Regions from separate parts of the Homo sapiens genome. Here region 2 is linked to region 1. Evidence: fine-mapped expression QTL. A gene starts in region 1. The other region holds a variant in brackets. All regions are shown on one strand. Distances are from middle to middle.

Region 1 (9,354 bases):
TACAATCTCTCACAATTATTTGTGGGCAGTGAATATAAGAGTTTACATTTTAGCTGATTCAATAAAGAAAATATATTTGTGGACGGGCGCAGTGGCTCACATCTGTAATCCCAGCACTTTAGGAGGCCGAGGTGGGCAGATCACTTGAGGTCAGGAGTTCGAGACCAGCCTGGCCAACATGGCAAAACCTCATCTCTACCGATAATACAAAAATTAGCTGGATGTGGTAGTGTGCGCCTGTAGTCCCAGCTACTCAGAGGCTGAGACACGAGAATTGCTTGAACCCAGCAAGCAGAGGTTGCAGTGAGCTGAGATCATGCCACTGCATTCTAGCCTGAGCAACAGTGTGAAACCATGTCTCAAAAGAAAAGAAAAGAAAGGAAACTCTATTTGTTATTAATTAGTTGGCACATCCCTTGCTCCTCACAGCTCAGCCTCACACATCTAGCAGTTTTCTAACAACCACCTTGGTGGCAGCACATACGAAGCAAGGGTAGACGCCAGGGAACACCTTAAGCCCCACCCAAACACCAAAATCACAAGATACTTCAGAAAGGGCGGCCTTGAGTCAAACCCAGGCTGACCCTACGGAAAAAACAGAGCATCCAACCCACGGACAGGGACACAGGGCTGACCTACCACCCTTCATTAGAACCTTTTCTCAGGGCCTCTGGTGAGACAGACCTAGCCATGCCCACCCACACTCCCTGAAGATCAGGCCCTCCACAGCTGATACCTCTTGAGTGCCCCCTACAGGCTCTACACCAGAAAATACAGGCACTGCGCTTGCTTCAAGCTTCTAATGCTGACAAGCAGCAGCAACAGCAGAATGCTGACATTTATTGTACACTTACTATGTGCCAGACATTGTTTGGTTTGGTTTTTCACTTTTTTCCACTTCACAATGGATTAACTCTTCCAAACAATTCTGAGGTCTATACTAATATTATCTCCTCTGTATAGATGTGAAAACTGAGATGCGATGCAGAGACGTTTGCGTGACACAGTAATGAAGTGGTAGAGCTGGGATCCGAACAGTGAGTGGCGTGAATGATGAAGACTGCTGGTCTGAAATCTCCTTTTATGACCTTCTATGCACACTGCCTGGATACATGGAAACAGCACTGCCACAGGCACACAGATATGGAAAAATCCAAAAGAGGTCAGTGAGTGATTCAAGCTGGGCAAACACTGCCCTTGGCCAAAGGTCAACAGACTGCCTCAAAGCATATTTAAATTTTATAAGGTGAAAGAAGGCAAAATGAACACTGTGCCTTGAAGCCTCAGCCCCATTTGACCAGGAACAAATCTCTGAAGCTCTCAAAGCCTGTTTCAGATCCGCTGATGAGACAGAAACGTAAGTCTCCACGCTTTTACCTCAACAGTCATCTCGCTGGCCAGAGAACCCTAACATCATCCTGAAAAGACTTAACTTTTGTTCTAACAAAAGAGCTCTATTAATATGATTATGGGATAGTATCGATAAAATGGGATAGTGGGGAGAAGATGTACCTTGCTGACCAGTTCTTTGTGCATCACAGAATTCACAGGGCATTGGAGCCAAAAGAGGCTTTAGAGGCACTAAGTCCAAGAAAGTGAAACAAGAGGCAGAGGAGTCTGATTAATTTATCCCAGGGTATATATCTTCATTCATGGATGCATGTTTATTTAACAGACATTTAAGCCCTTAAGTGACAAGTCCCTTCCGAGACCCTGAGGGTACACAGGCCACCAAGCCATGTATTTGAGAAGCTATGTCTGCAGGGAGGGATTGCCTTGTTCTAATTCATAAGACACTGTATGGAGCTAGCAGCAGCCCTTGGGACACAATACTAAGATGTGCCCTGCCTTTAGATCTGGGGCTGCAAACTGCTTGGCTGAATCCAGGCTGCAAACACATTTATCTGCCTTTCAATACTTTAAAAACTGGGAAATTTTGTAAGAAGTCTAGATGATCCAGCTATCTTGAAAAATAAGATCTGGCAATCCTGGGCTTATGTCTCCACTTAGCAACGATCAGATGGAATTGAGTAGAGACTGCTCTTAATAGATGGAGCACGCGTTCTGCACTTTGCCACTGTCTCCGTTACTCTCTATTGTCTCTTAGGCAATGCTAGCCTCATTCCTTTGTTTGAGTCTGTCCTTTAGGCAAATAAAGATGCAATTCATGAGCCGGGTCCTCTCAAGTTGGTTGGAAAAGACAGCAGAAGTCTAAAGAGAGGACTGTGGGATAAAACAGTGGGATATGTGATGATAGATGTAAACTCAGAATATTTATTTAGCAGCTTAGCTAGGGCCAGAACCTGGCTCTGCCCATTGTTTCCTGGTCTCCAGCAACCCAGCCTCTGCTGGGCACATGCAGACAGCCATTCTAGTCTGAAATGACAGGGTCCATCACAGCCCCAGGTCATCACCGGTGTATGGTATCCACAGTGCTATTAAAGCCCTACTCAGGATTCAGAGAGGACCCAAGGGATCTGGATAATCCTTACAGCTAAGCCAACCAGAAATACCATTGGCTAGAGATAGGAAAGAAAGTCTGGTTCTCTGGTGTAGGATTAACACTAATCATGCCACATCTTAGGTGGTATACAATAATGCCTCTGAGTAAACAGAGGGATGTCCACCATTTCCCTTCCCCTCCCTATATGACCTTACCTGCGGGAGGGGAGAGTGCATGAAGACCATCCCTATCAGCACCCACCAGGGGCTCGTCCAGGAAGCCATGGGGTCTAGTCTCCTCCGGGTCTCAGTTGTAGCCTACAAACGAGGAAAGAGTTCATTACCAACCAGCTCTGGCCCCCATGGCAGTAAACCGTGACTTAAGCGACCCATTAGATGGAGGGACCCTGAAGCCCATATACTATTTTGGAAAGGTTTGTGTTGGCCCAGGTTGCCGCTGCCTACTGCAGGGTGCAGGCTAACTGGGCTCCCTTTAGAAGGTCCACAACAAAGTCAGGCGAGGGCTGGACCTGTCTCCAGTGGGCATCTCATACCTCCAGCTCTTCAGAAGCTGAGATATCCCTGCCCAAGCCTATCTGTCAGCAGCAGGGTGTCGCTATTGGCATTTGACTCAGGAAGCCAGCACAGAGCCAAGGTTTAGGCTAGCTTCTGCTGCTCGCGGCAAAAATGAGTCTAAGACAACAAAGCCGCCCAGAGAGGGAAAGGACCTGCCTAAGGTCACACAGCAAGATAGTGACATTTTAGGGCTGAAACGCAGATCTTCTGATAGTTCAAGGCTTTCCTCGCTAGATGACACCGTGCGCCCTCGAGGTCCGGGACCCACACCCAGAGAGACGCCTGAGAGCTAAGTTCAGGGAGGTTTGGAGGACACAGCCCCTGAGCCAGCCTAACACAATCTCCTAAAAGTAGGTGAGGGCCAGCCAGCAGAGGTCAGCTGAAACCAGGAGGGAAGCGGGGACTTTTTCCCTTACTTTTCCTGTCAATTTACAGGGAAATCAGTATGAGTCGAGACTGGAAAAGCCGAGGTCACACTCGACTCCCGCTTCGCCTCGCGGGCGCCTTGGCGGAGCTGGTGTCCGGGGGCGGGTCGGTGGCTTCTCTCCATCTGGAGAAGGCATTAAGGGCCTGGTCTAATGTGATCCGCAAATGTGCTGCTGTTTCCGACCTGAGGCGGCGACTCCTGGCTGAAGGGAGGCGGCCAGTGCGGGGCCCTGGGACTCTGCGCCACCCTCGCCTGCTCGCACCAGCCTTCCGAGTGCACACTCCTCCGACTACCCGCTGCCTCGAAGTCGCTCCTCCAGTGCCTCCGCCGCGTCCCGGTCACCCCCACGCCCACTTTCCACGATCGCGCGTCGCCTCAACCCCCGGCGTTCTGGGCGCTCGCTACCCAGTGGTCAACCGGCCGGACCTTCGGACCCGCGAGGTTTCTGCTTAGTAACTCCCAATCCTGAAAAACTCCAACCCTGTGGAGTTCCCCCATAATCAAGAACGCCCCTCAGCCCGCGAACTGCCGCCGAAAGACTCTCCCTGAACCTTCCGGGACGGCACGAAGCGCGCCCGACCCGAGGTGCCCAGCAGTGAGGAGCACCCCAGTCCTGAGGCCCCCTGGGGCCCGCGTGGCACGCCCCGACTCTGCTTGGAGACCCCCAACTTGCTTAGAGAGGCCACTGCTCCAAGTCTTACTCCCTCTGGGGAGCGCCTTCCCCCGACCCCTGAGGGGCCGCCCTGCGCCGAGCTCGGTGCACCCACCTTGCGCCGCAGAAGTATCTGGGACGTGCAGCCCCGGGGCCGCGCGGGCTCGGCGCGCGCTGGGGAGAAGTTGGCAGAAGCCGCCCGTCAACACCTCGTGCGGAATCCGGCACCAGGACCTTCCCCGACGCCGGCCTCCAGCCCGCGGCGCCGCAGTCGCCGCCGCCGCCGCGAAGTTAAATGGGGCTGGGACGGGGGCTGCCCCGCCTCTCCCGCCCCCTCCGGGCGCGCAGAGCGCTGCGCTGGCCCCGGCCCAGAGGCGGAGGGCGCGCGCCGCCACCTGCACCGCCCGGCAAGTGCACGGCGCGCCCAGGCGCCCGTCAGCCTGCGCGCCGGCACCGCGCCCTCGGCTTGAGCTGGAGGCGCCGGGGGCGCGAAGAGACGCCGTGTGGGGCCAGGCCCGGGCCGCTCGGAGCGCGCGGGGCCGCGGCGACGGCGGGACTCGGCTGGAACGCTCCTCCGCCCGCTTCCTGGAAGCCACTCCTCGCCCTGGGCCGGCCGCCAGGCGTTGTGCCAAGAGCCGGGATTGCCGACGCCGCCACCGCCGCCGCCGGCAGGCGCACTGGGGAAAGGCGGCCGCTGCGCCGCAAGCCAGCCTGGCCGCCCCGCCTCAGCCGGAGCCGGAGCAGGGATGCCGTCGCTCCCCCCGAGCCCACCCCCGGCCCCACCTCCCATAGCCTCCACCCACCCCGCCCAGACCCGGGCGCCAGCTCTGCAAAGTCAGGCCCAGCAGCCACACAGAGGTTTGCCCGGAACCGCTGGCTCGTGCCTAAGAGCCATAGGCACTCCTGGCCAGGCAGGACCATAGTGGAGACCAATGGCCCTCTCCTGGCCTGCGCCTCCTCCGCGCAGCATAGACGCCACACAAGGGACTGTGGAGCGCTCACTGCCCAGAGGCCTGGGACCTTTGGCAGCCAGGGACCACGAGGATCTTGCAGGAGCGCCTCTTAACTGGGTACCTGGCGCCTCCTTGTCTGAGCCGGGCTTGGGGAACTGAGAGCTCCACAGGTGCCAGAATCATGCCGTGTCCAGGCCTGGGATTTGGGGTTGGGGGGAAGAGTGTCGCGGACAAGAGACTGGGGTGAGTTGCCTGTGTACTTCTGGAGGTGAGGAGAAGTAAAAGGAAATGTTTGTCCCTGTCCTTGTCCTAGTCCCAGCAGGATAAGCCAAGGGCCAGGAGATTGATCTTAAAGGCTGCATTATGCCCCCACCTAAGTCCTACCACAGTCGCCATTTCCTTGGGTGTCTGTCGAGTACCAAGCTCTTTGTGTCTATCTGATCTTCACAGCAGCAGTAGTTCGAGCATTATCCCATTTCACCTAGGATAAATCTGAGGCTGGGAGGATAACTTGCCCACCATGAGTGGAGAAGCCAGGACTGGAACCCCTATCTGCCTCTCTCTAGAGCCTGGACTGTTCACCCCTAAAGTTGTTCTCCTGCCTTCTCTGTGGTTGCTGCGTTCCGGTTACTGCTAGAGCTTTGCCAAGAGCAATTGGCCCTGCCTGCTTTCCTCACTCATTCTTCCCTTACTTACTCTGGTGACTTCCTCTGACCAAGAAGAGGATCTTCAAGGCTGTCTCTCCACTCTATGTAAAATGATTGGACTTGTGGCAAGTGAGCAGAGGACAGGTCAGTGTGGAGACAGGAGAGGTAAGAGTAGCCAGTGAAGGGTAGGGAGGGCTGGGCTAAACTAGAACTAACTCATCTATGGACAATCGATCCTTTTTATTTACTGTAGTTGTGGTCTATAAAGTCACAGAACAACGAATTTGTGAATATGGAGCCATTGTTCCTAGGGGAAATATAGAGTTGGGTTCCTGCAAGCTCACAATATTTTTGTCAATCAATCAACACATTGCCTTATTTTATGCATGTTTCTGTTTAAAGACGCCTTACTTAACATCTATTGTTGATTCCTGAACACTGAGCTCACAGCCTACAGTGCTGTAACTCATGCCTGAATGAAGCTTATCTAACTTACGTATTTTCTCTGCAACACACATCCCAGCCTTCTTCCACTTAGGAACGCTAGACTTCACTTCAGCACTGTGCCTGGGGGGTGCTTTAAGCAGCAAAATCATCAAAAAAAAGACCAAAAAAATGTGAAAACATGGCAATGAAGAGAACTTTTGGGCCACTCATTTACAGTGTGAAAGCTGAAACAAGAAGACAGAGGGTTGACTGGTTGGACCTTAGCTTCCAACATGTGTCTCAAGAGACTCAAAACGTTCAGCACTGGTTCAATGACTTTGAAAGTGCTGCAGCTATTGATTATGAGGTGTTAAAATAAAAACTTTAGACAAATTTAACAGAGGTTAATTGAGCAAAGAACAATTTGAAAATAGGGCAGCCCCCCTCAGCCCCAAAACAAAATAGATTCAGAGCAACTCTGGGGCTTCCACATAGTCAGATAATATTTATGGATAGAAAACGGAATATGATGAACAGAAAACGGAAATGAGGTACAGAAACAGCTGGATTGGTTACAGCTCGGCATTTGCCTTATTTAAACATGGTTTAAACAGTTGACCGCCTGTGATTGGCCAAAACTCTGTGACTGCTTCAAGAGTAGGTTACAGTCTGTTTACACATCATCAGGTTACAGTTTACTATGTACAGAGAGACCTTTAGGCCGAACTTAAAATATGTAAGAAGGCAACTTTAGGCTAAACTTAATTTAACGGAGGTGACAAATAAATTTTACCCAGTAGCTGAATTCACAATAAGGAATCTGCAAATAATGAGAATTGATTTTTCGTGCTTCTCATATCAGAGTATCAGTAAAGGAATAGCCACATTAACATTCAAAACACTTAGGATGTGGCAGGCACTGTTCCAGATACTTTGCTTATACCGAGTCATCCCATCATCACAACAGCCTATGGGGTAGATATTATTTTTATTCCCATTTTGCAAATGAGGAAACTGAAGTGGAAAGGTTTAAATACCTCATGTTCTTAGCAACTAGACGATACCACTCCTCATCGTTCATATTCTAAAACTAGCCCCACCATATCATGGAGTCAAATGCAAAAAAGTCACATGAATATGCAAGATGAAATGGAGAATTCAAAGAAATATTATGCTTGTGCAGTGGTGGCTGCATTAAGCAGAGCTCCCGGTGTCTGCAACTCAAGAAGTCACTGAGAATGCCTCTGGAGTTGGGGGACTTTGCTGGGAACATTTGAGATGCACTGCTCTGTTTTAAGGTATTAATGGCTCAGCAGGACTTCCTGTCTCATCTCCCTTGGGCAATCTGACTCCTGAGCCAGCCTCCAAGGAGTGCCCCACACCAAGTACTAAGACCAGGACTGAGCCTTTCTCTCCCACAGGTTCCATCTAGCAGGAGGCCAGCCCCCTCAAAGAGCAGGTGTTCCAGTAGCGAAAAGTAGTAGAGAAAACATCACCAATACCTTTATAGAACTTTTGCCTTCCAGTTAACCCTAGCAGGTCAAGCAAACCTGTGTGAGTGGCCAAGGTACTGTAAGTTAGGACAACAAAGAGCTGCAGAGGACAGCCTCCACTGGGGGTGCTGGCTGGACTTCACAGATGTTATGCGCAGAATCATGGCCTCACCACCCCTCAGTCACCTCTTCCCTCACCCCTTCCCTCAGTCACTCACCCACACTTCCCTCCCATCCTTACTTCCTCACCTGAGGCTTGGCCCAAATGTTTAAATAAGACATTGCCAAAGGCATGGTGTGGTGGGAGATCAGGAATTGGGAAGAACAGGAATGAATAAACCCCAAAGCAGCTAATCTGGCTGATTTGGCTGTTGAGTGTAGCCACCTACCCAATCACTATCTGGGGAGGTTCAGGCCCCTCCCTGCCTACTTCCTGGACTTCCTCCCTGTGAGAACACCCACCACCTGGGGACAATGGCAATGCATTTAGACTCTGAAGGGTCGAGGAAACTGAGTTCCATTTCCTCCCTAAGATCCAACTTCTTGGCTTCCTGGCTTTCACTACCTGTCTCAGGACCTGCTTCTTCCTAGATGAATTTCAGAGATTCCTGCCCGCGCTCCCAGCTTTGCCTGCTCCCAGCTTTGCCTGTTGACCTCAACCCAACAAGCACACAGTACAACATTCACGTGAGAGATACACATTGAAGATCAGGAAAGGAACTATTGATGATGGTGGTGTTGGGGTGTGTTTAGGTTTTACCCTTAGAGACAAGGAATATCAATTCAGGCATCAGCCTTAATTTGTTCTTGAAACAGAAATGCTCTTTCTGGTTACAGAGTTGTGAAGTGGGCTTGGGAAGCACACTCAAGAACGCTGTGTTGGAGGCTTGGAGAAAAAGAGTACTTGGAGGCAAGTACTCCAATAGAAGTTACCATTGACTGCAGCAGACACCAAAGATACACTCTCAGCCAAGGCCACTAAGAGATAACACATCTGGGGCCAGGTGCGGTGGCTCATGTCTGTAATCCCAACACTTTGGGAGGCCGAGGCGGGCAGATCATTTGAAGTCAGGAGTTCGAACCCAGCCTGGCCAACATGGTGAAACCCCATCTTTGCTAAAAAATACAAAAATTAGCCAGACATGGTGGCGTGCACATGTAGTCCCAGCTACACGGGTGGCTGAAGCAGGAGAATCACTTGAACTGGGAGGCAGAGGTTGCAGTGAGCTGAGATCACACCACTGCACTGCAGCCTGGGCAACAGAACGAGACTCTATCTCAAAAAAAAAAAAAAGAACACATCTGGATGTTAGGTGAACATAGTGCCTTAGGGGCACAAAATTAGCTAGCGAGTGTTCTTCAGGAAAAACCTATGAAGGAGTGAGGGAAGCAGGATAGGTAAGGCGCAAGACTAGAGCAAGCTGTGACTGAGGTCAAGCCTAACCTTCATGTGATCCTCGGGGATCCTGGAACAGAAACCACACCATAGATTTGCCGTGACTTGAAGCACCAGGACCAACTGCTGACCCGGGTGCCAGTAAGTCACTGCCTCCACTGGAGCTGGGTGGTGGTATATGGTGGTATAACCTCCAAGGTGGCTCCCTGTGGCCAAGGACAATGCTCCAGGAATGTATCAGCTGTAAGCCTTTAGCTGCTGCACCAAATATATGCTGGGGATAGGTGTGCCTGCTGGTAAAGAAATCGGACAGGGCATCCTCTCCAACGGCATCTACCATGC
Region 2 (9,354 bases), 50 kb before region 1:
AACACTCTGCAACGTGGAATATTCTATTTGTAGTTTCAGACTATTTTAGAGTGGAAAGAGTTCAGATCATGAAATCCAGTCACTTTGTTTTTTAAAAGAAATAAAGAATCCAAAGTCCAAAACGTTAAATAGTTCTGTTAGATTATAAGCTGATTAGTGGTAGAAGCAAGACCAGGCTGCCTGACTAGTCCTGTTTGCACTAAACCACATTGTTACTCAGTTGGCTTCAGACCACTTTCTTCACTAGAAGCTGCCGCGGCCCTCCGTATGATCCATAATGTGGCTTTTACGCCTCCCATTAAATGCAGCCTACATCACAGCTATGTGTTACTGGCCTCAGGGTTATTAGTTTTCCAGGCATCTAACCCAGGAGACATTTGAAGAATGACCTGAAGGTCTTCATGAAATGCGCCCAGGATAAAACACTTTAAAAAGTCCTGTGAGGTTCATCCAAGACAGCAAATATCTACACACCATCCATTTGCATCCCATTTTATCAAATGAGTACTCTATAGGTAGGAAGATCCTAGTGAACCCACATCTGACCCAACAGCATTAGAAACTAGGCTGCAGCCTCAATTGCATAAGTACTTTGTCACTCTGGCTTCAAGCCACTGTGACAGCAGGACAGCACCCCTGGCATATATATATGGAGATTCCACAGGTAGGTACCCATGCCACCTGACACAGGTTCTGCCCTGGCAGCCACTCACACAGACCCTGTACCTACTTCTGGCTGTGGAATGCCGGTGGCTGCTGGCATATAACAAAGGCTACACTGGAAAACTGTCCCCACCATTTCCCCAGGTATGAAATCTTTGGAGAGACTGCTCTGAAAACCTTTTAGGGACAACCTGGGAATTTCTGTGCAAGAGTAATGCTGCATGCCACCCAGTATGCTGCAATTTGTTCCAACATGAGACAATTTGTTCCAAAGAGTACAACTGGCTGCTAGACATTAAACCCTATATTATGTTGGATCCAGCAACTGGGTTGAATCTCTCAGACATAATGATGTGTGAAAGAAGCCAGACACAAACGAGTATGTGGTGTATGATTCCATTTATATAAAATCAAAAATAAAATTAAAAGCAGGCAAAATGAATCTGTAATACTGATAAAAGTCTGAATGGTGGTTACTTCTTGAATGTGGGATATTGATCGGAAAGAGGTTCAAGGAGCCTCCTAGGGTGCTAGAAATGTTCATTTTCTTGATCTAGGTAGCAACTACACAGGTGTAAAAATACTTAAAAATTCATCAAGCTCTATACTTCAGATATGTATGCGTTTTACTTACATATGTTATAGCTCAATAAAAAATTAATTGAAAATATTGCATGAGATCTCCTAAAGTAAGAATTAACTTCTTCCTTTCTTTTAGCATAAGCATATCTGAGATTCTTTGAATTGAGTGTTTGCAAACAACATTCTTAGTAATAACAATAGCTAAATTAAATGCTTATATGTACCAGGCCCTATGCAGGGAGACATGAATTAACGCCTACATAAGGTAGATACCATCCAAATCTCCATTTCATAGATGAGAAAATTAAGGGACAGGGAAGTAAAGTAACTTGTCCAAAGTAAAACAGCAAATCAAATGGCAGAACTGACAAATCAAATTCAAACCCAAAGCAGTCTGACTCCAGAGACTTTGTTCTTAATTGATCTTAATGTTTTGTCATATGCTGAAGGATCAGGGGATTTTTTAAAAGTTTGATAGTATTTGATTGGTTTTATCCTTTCCCCAGTGCCTGAGAAGCATGTTCAGCATTAAGAAAAAAGAGGATTGGCCAGGCGCAGTGGCTCACACCTGTAATCCCAACGCTTTGGGAGGCCGAGGAGAGCAGATCGCTTGAGCCCAGGAGTTTGAGGCCAACCTGGTCAACATAGCAAAACCTCATTTCTACAAAATACAGACAAAAAAAATTATCCAGGGGTGGTGGTACATGCCTAATGCCTATAATCCCAGCTACCTGGGGTGGGGGGCGGGGGCTGAGGCAGGAGGATCACCTAAGTGTGGGTGGGGAGGTTGAGGCTGCAGTGAGCTGTGATCATGCCACTGCACTTCAGCCTGGGTGACAGAACAAGACCCAATCTCAAAAAAAAAGAAAAGAAAAAAGAGGAAAGAGAATCAGGATTTGGTTGGTGGGTTAACAGTCTCTAGCTGATTAAATTCCTGAGGTTCATTCAATAGATAAACCTAGTTTAGTCCAAGCGCCTATTTTCTGTGCCTTTAGTAGAGGAAAGTGGGTGCTATTATTGGCTTGTTATAGTCTCAAATTATTCCTTTCTCCTAAAAGAAATACACAGTGGGGGCAACACAGAGTGTTTTCATATGCTAGTCACTGAGGCTTTCTGGAACACTATGTCCTAGGATGAAATTTCCACAGCATGCCACACACTTTTCAGATCTGCTTTAGACCTTTTGAAAAGACTGAAGGGGCTTGTTTTCCCCTTTTCCCAGCTTTTATATTGTTATTATGTTAAATATAAAGTATCTGTGGAACCTGGAGAAGACATTAACCACTCTTTAATTATAAAATGCATAGCTTGGTATTTTCCAGACACCCGCTTTTATCCTTTACGGCCCTCTCAATTAGTTCCTCTGAAGTTCTCATATGAAAACCTGTTGGATTATTGATTTCTGGATTAAAAGGAGCTATAAATTATAGACCCTCTCAAAATCCATCAAGGGAAGGGGGAAGGCAGAAAGTGACTTAATGATGTTTTAGCCCCTATTAGCAACCAGGCCCAAATGTTTGGGCTCTACAATGCAAATATAGAATTATTCCCCAGCCCACCCCTGCTCCCCACAATGACTAGTAATGCACTCACTCACTTTTAAAGTAACTTGAAAATATGATTGAATGTTGACATTTTGAGTAAGAAATTGGTCTCATCCCACTCTTGCCCCAATGACCAGTGTGGCTCCCTGCCCACAGCGGTCTGGAGGGTCACAGCCCTGACCTTCACCCCAGTCCCAGCTCTGGAATGAAGCCCACCAAGGGTAGGTCACTGAGCAGCAGCCTCAAGGATGGAGAGTGTGCAGTGTCTTCCCCTGAGCTGGGAGATAGAGGACTGAGCAACAGACTCCTCTACCTGCCCTCTATGCTCTAATCTCCGTCCTGCATCAGCCACTGATGCTCTGCAAGACTTTCATCCTTCTCCCAGCCCACCTCCAGCACTCTGCCTAGCTCCAGCCAGCCCTCAGAACAGGGTCCTACTCCCTGTGGTCACATCTTGGATCTACCCATGTTGGCAGACTGAATTTCTCAGAGCTGTTCCTTTTGAGTACTGTCTTTTGCACTCTGACTAGGCTTTACCTAAATCAAACCAGGATGCACTGGCCTTTGGCTATACAGCTGAGGAGAGCACAGCTGGCCTCAGTCACTGGGCCATCTCCCTCCACTCTATCACGTACCATGGGAAGGTGATCTTGCCCCAGCTCCTCACCTTCACTTGGGCCCTACAGGTGCTGAGGTCTGCCAGATCCACCCAGGCCCTACATCATCTTAAAGTCCACCCTGGTTTGCTCAACTGCCCCATAAATTCAGGCTTTACCAGCTTTGCATTAGGCAAAGTTGAAACTCTCTGTTTCACCAAGTTGTGAGTGATTTCAAAGATGGATAATCTTAAATGCTATTATGGCATCAAGGTGAATTGAGGATGGAAGGGAATCACAACTTCCAGTGCTCAGCTTACACATGTCAGCCAAGCAAGGCCTTCTTCTCTAGTTAGCCTTCCTAAAATGATTTCAACACACACACACACACACACACACACACACACACTCACAGACATATGCACACACAGGCATTCACACTGTGTTCCTTTCTGAAAAGTAATCTTGGGGAAAAAAGCATGCAACATTGGTGCTGGTAAAAGAAATGAAGTAAAAGCTGAGGGCAAAGAAGTAACACATAAGCAGAAAACAGAATTTTGGATAATTTCAGAATTGAATCATCAATGTGGTGATAGCTGAGATGAACAAATCCATCATATATTTCTGATGAAAATAAGAAAAAGTGACTTTTATGCAAATGCAGAGAAAGAACTGCACATTATATAGGAAATTACATGCAAACATGGGCAATCCACATATTCTGGGATCCTTCAAGGGTGTCAAGGGTCTGTTGTACTTGTATTGCAAAGAGGAAAATATAATTACTTTGAAGGTCTTTTAGAGACAGTTTCCTGACCACTGGCAAACAGCAAAGCCAAAGGTAGATCCTTGTCCAATGTTCTTACCTGGTCATCATAGCGATAAGTGAGGAACTGCTCCCCTGTTGTGTCTTCCAGAAAACTTCCCTGAGGAGAAAGTGCAAACTCGGGAAGGAAATAGGCTCCAGGAGATTTCTCAGCTGTGGTCTGAAAAACAAGATCATTTGGTCACAAATAAGGCTCCAGTAAGGACCCCCTGACAGGTAAAGTCCAAGAAGGCCATTCCAGGAGAATCCACCATTAATAGCTGTACCAAGAAACAAAAAGGGAAGTGACCTCTCTTGGCAAAGACCAGGGTGAGGCACACCAGGTGTGTCAGGGCACTGTTAGGCCAGGATATCACAGTGGCCCGAATCAAACTGGCAGCCATGGCATTTATTCTCTGACACCTGCCTCTCTCCCCCTCCCCGCTACCTCTGCTCCCCATCTTCCAGCAATTCAGTCACAGAGTAGTTAACTTTGTCTTGTTGTTGCAAATCTATTGTTTTTAGGATTTTCTTTTCTTCTTCCTTTTGTGTTTTTTTTTTTTTTT[G/TG]GCAAAGGAGTGAGAAACAAAAATTTTCTCCCATACTACAACAAAAATGCACTTCATTGTAGAAACTTTAGAACATATAAATGAGCACAGAAGAAAATAAAATCACCCATAATCTTTTCAACCTGTAATAACCACTGTTAATTGTTTTGGTGTATTTCCTTTGAGACTTTTTCTTCATAATGCTTTGTTTAAAAATCCAAGCTTAAATAAACATGCATATTGTAGACTGTGTTTAGTTCATGGAAAGCTCATACCCCAGTCCGTTTTCATGCTGCTGATAACTACATACCCGAGACTGGGAAGAAAAAGAGGTTTAATTGGACTTAGAGTTCCACGTGGCTGGGGAGGCCTCAGTATCATGGCAGGAGGTGAAAGGCACTTCCGACATGACGGCCACAAGAGAAAGTGAGAGGGATGCAAAAGCGGAAACCCCTGATAAAACCATCAGATCTCGTGAGACTTATTCACTATCACGAGAACAGTATGGGGGAAACTGTCCCTATGATTCAAATTATCTCCCACCGGGTCCCTCCCACAACACATGGGAATTATAGGAGTACAATTCAAGATGAGATTTGAGTGGGGACACAGAGCCAAACCATATCACTCCACCCCTGGCCCCTCCAAATCTCATGTCCTCACATTTCAAAACCAATCATGCCTTCCCAACAGTCCCCCAAAGTCTTAACTAATTTCAGCATTAACCAAAAAGTCCACAGTCCAAAGTCTCATTTGAGACAAGGCAAGTCACTTCTGCCTATAAGCCTGTAAATTCAAAAGCAAGCTAGTTACTTCCTAGATACAATGAGGGTATAGGTATTGGATAAACACAGCCATTCCAAATGGGAGAAATTGGCCAAAACAAAGGAGTTACAGGGCACATGCAAGTCCAAAATCTAGTGGGGCGGTCAAATTTTAAAGCTCCAAAATGATCTCCTTTCACTCCAGGTCTCATGTCCAGGTCACGCTGAGGCAAGAGGTGGGTTCTCATGGTCTTGGGCAACTCCACCCTTGTGGCTTTTCAGGGTATGGCCTCTCTCCCAGCTGTTTTCACAGGCAGGCGTTGAATGTCTGTGGCTCTTCGAGGAACATGGTCCAAGCTGTCAGTGGATCTACCATTCTGGGGTCTGGAGGACAGTAGCCCTCTTCTCACAGCTCCACTAGGCAGTGCCCCAGTAGGAACTCTGTATGGGGGCTCCGACCCCACATTTCCCTTCCGTACTGCTATTGCACAGGTTCTTCATGAGGGCCCCGCCCCTGCAGCAAACTTTTGCCTGGGCATCCAGGTGTTTCCATACAACCTCTGAAATCTGGGCAGAGGTTCCCAAACCTCAATTCTTGACTTCTGTTGCAGGCTCAACATCACAAGGAAGATGCCAAGACTTGGGGCTTCCACCCTCTGAAGCCACAGCCCGAGCTCTACATTGGCCCCTTTCAGCCATAGCTGGAGCAGCTGGGACACAGGGCACCAGGTCCCTAGGATGCACACAGCCAAGGGACCCAGGGCCCAGCCCGCAAAACCACTTTTTCCTCTTGGGCCTCCAGGCCTGTAATGGGAGGGGCTGCCATGAAGGTCTCTGACATGCCCTGGAGACATTTTCCCCATAGTTCTGGGAATTAGCATTAGGCTCCTTACTACTTATGGAAATTTCTGCAGCCAGCTTGAATTTTTCCCCAGAAAATGGGTTTTTCTTTTCTATTGCATAGTCAGGCTGCAAATTTTCTGAACTTTTATGTTCTGTTTCCCTTTTTAAACTGAATGCCTTTAACAGTATCCAAGTCATCTCTTGAATGCTTTGCTGCTTAGAAATTTCTTCCACCGGGTACCCTAAATCTTCTCTCTCAAGTTCAAAGTTCCACAAATCTCTAGGGCAGGGGCAAAATGCCACCAGTCTCTTTGCCAAAACATAACAAGAGTCACCTTTGCTCCAGTTCCCAAGAAGTTCCTCATCTCTATCTGAGACCACCTCAGCCTGGACCTTTTCATTCATATCATTATCAGCATTTTGGTAAAGGCAATCAACAAGTCTCTCCGGAGTTCCAAACTTTCCCACATTTTCCTGTCTTCTTCTGAGCCCTCCAAACTGTTCCAACCTCTGCTTGTTACCCAGTTCCAAAGTTGCTTCTACATTTTCAGGTATCTTTTCAGCAGCACCCGATTCCACTGGTGCCAATTTACTGAATTAGTCCAATTTCATGCTGCTGGTAATGACATACTCGAGACTGGGAAGAAAAAGAGGTTTAATTGGACTTACAGTTCGACATGGCTGGGGAGGCCTCAGAATCATGGCAGGAGGCAAAAGGCACTTCTTACATGATGGTGGCAAGAGAAAATGAAGGGATGCAAAGTGGAAACCATTGATAAAGCCATCAGATCTTGTGAGACTTATTCACTGCCATGAGAACAGTATGGGGGATACCTCCCCCATGATTCAAATTATCTCCCACCGGGTCTCTCCCACAGCATGTGGGAATTATGAGAGCACAATTGAAGATGAGATTTGGGTGGGGACACAGAATCAAACCATATTACCTGGCATCTGAATCACTGGACATAAATCACAATGGTTGGAGTCTGAGGGGGTCAGAAAGGACACCCTCTTTAGGGGAATATGGCTGGGATATGATGACCCAATGGACTTGCTACCATCACACTATCACCCACCTCCTGGGAGAGCCTGTCCAAGGGAAGACTGAGGAGGTAGAGGGTTTACCAGGATCACTGCCTTGATTGCTTCAAGGAGGAAAGTAATAAAGGAGATAGAATCTGCAGAGCTTAGCCCCATCCAGTCAAAAATACATGGATCTGTGACTATACCCCCGACTGGATACCTCACTCCCCCTGCTTGGGAAGAAATGAGTCAGAAATAAATTAAGAGGCCACAGGTGTTACTCTAAGAAAATTGCTCTCTGCAAACAGGAGAAGCAGGGAGTAAACATATTCCTCTGACACCTCTGCTGCTCCAATGGACTCATTCTCAAACTGCAGCAGGAACTATAGTTTACGCTAAAACGTCCCTCTGAATACTGTGTTTTAGAAAGGGAAATCAACATCATTCTGTCAAGGAATATAGAAGAGATAACTCCACTAGACTAGATGGCTTAGATAGCACTAGACTGTTAAAATAATTTGAAGACTTTCTTATTAAATTTCATTTATGTGAGAGATTTAGCACCACTATTGCTAATTGCTCTTACTGGCTTCAATCATCACTTTATTTTTTTTACTTTAATTTTTTTTAGACGGAGTCTTGCTCTGTCACCCAGGCTGGAATTGAGTGACGTGATTTCAGCTCACTGCACTCTCCGCCTCACAGGTTCAAGCAATTCTCCTGCCTCAGCCTTCCTAGTAGCTGGGATTACAAGTGCCCACCACCATGCCTGGATAATTTTTGTATTTTTAGTAGAGACGGGGTTTCACCATGTTGGCCAGGCTGGTCTCGAACACCTAATCTCAGGCGACCTGCCCGCCTTGGCCTCCCAAAGTGCTGGGATTACAGGCATGAGCCACCGCGCCCAGCCAGAATCATCATTTTAAATACCTAAAGAGACCTTAGAAGTCATCTAGGTCAAACTCCTTATTTTAAAAATGAGTAAACTATAGCTCTGAGAGTTAGGAGACTAACCAATCACCAAATCTGACAGTGACTATTCCTGGCACACAAAAAAAGAACAAGTGCAAAAGCCCTAAAATAGAAAGGAGGTCAGTGAGTTTGAGGAACAGACGCAGGCTTACAGCCAGGGCTGGAACCTGTTAGCAGCCATGTGCCAATACCTGGACAGATCCATTTACCAGAGTGGAAGCAGTCAAAGATCGCCACCTTAAAACAGCTTCCCGCATATAGTGGACCTTCCAGTGTGATGCTTATATTCAGTTGACCATGCATTCAACACATATTTATTGAGCACCTAATATATGCCTGGCACAGTTCTCAGTGCGATAGATACAATGAGGAACAAAAAAGATCAGGTTCCTATTTTCATGGAGGTTACATCCTAGAGGTGGAGATACATAGTAAAATAAGTAAACAAATACATAAATAAGAAAACTAACATTCTAAGTTCTAAAGGAAATAAACAAGGTGATATGAGAATAATGTTGGGAGAGGACTGTTCAATTTTAGATAAGATGGTCAAAAAAGGCATCCATGGGAAGATAAGATTTCAGATGATACCTCAAACAGGAGGAGCCAGTTATGGAAAAAGCTAAGGATGAGTATTACCGGCAAAAGAAGAGCAAGTACAAAAGCTCCAAAGTGGAAAGGAAGTCAGTGAATTGGAAGAACTAGAGTGTGGCTGAATTCAGTGCGGACAAGTAACAGTGGCACGAAATGGATAAAGAAGGAAGGGAAAAGCCACCCAAGACATTTAAAGCCTTATGGTAAGGAGACGGAGAACAATAGAAGAGTATTTAAACAACACTGACTGCTTTGTGGAGACTGAGCTAGAAGAAGGTAAAGTGGAATCACAAAGACTAGTTGGAAGGCTGTTGGTACTAACCCAGGTGAAAAGGGATGGTTCCTTGGACTGGGATGATGGCAGTAGAGAAGGGGAGAGGTGCATGGATTAGAAGTAGAACCAACAAAGCTTTCCGATGA

What was found. PIP is the estimated chance that this variant, and not a neighbour inherited with it, causes the effect.
Region 2: its variant is fine-mapped to the expression of ADAMTSL3 in iPS cells (HipSci, PIP 0.95).

Annotation. Positions count from the first base shown.
Region 1 is chr15:83,649,135-83,658,488 of GRCh38, reverse strand. ADAMTSL3 (ADAMTS like 3) reads right to left here and starts at 4,366. Exons shown (of 30, transcript NM_207517.3): 1 at 4,213-4,366; 2 at 2,659-2,760. The coding sequence starts at 2,727. RefSeq lists an enhancer at 5,728-5,897.
Region 2 is chr15:83,699,406-83,708,759 of GRCh38, reverse strand. It overlaps ADAMTSL3 (ADAMTS like 3), which reads right to left. Exons shown (of 30, transcript NM_207517.3): 3 at 4,252-4,371. Among named protein-coding and RNA genes, the nearest start is that of ADAMTSL3, 50 kb to the right of the region's middle. RefSeq lists an enhancer at 386-555. The variant G/TG (reference allele first, on the strand shown) is at 4,757.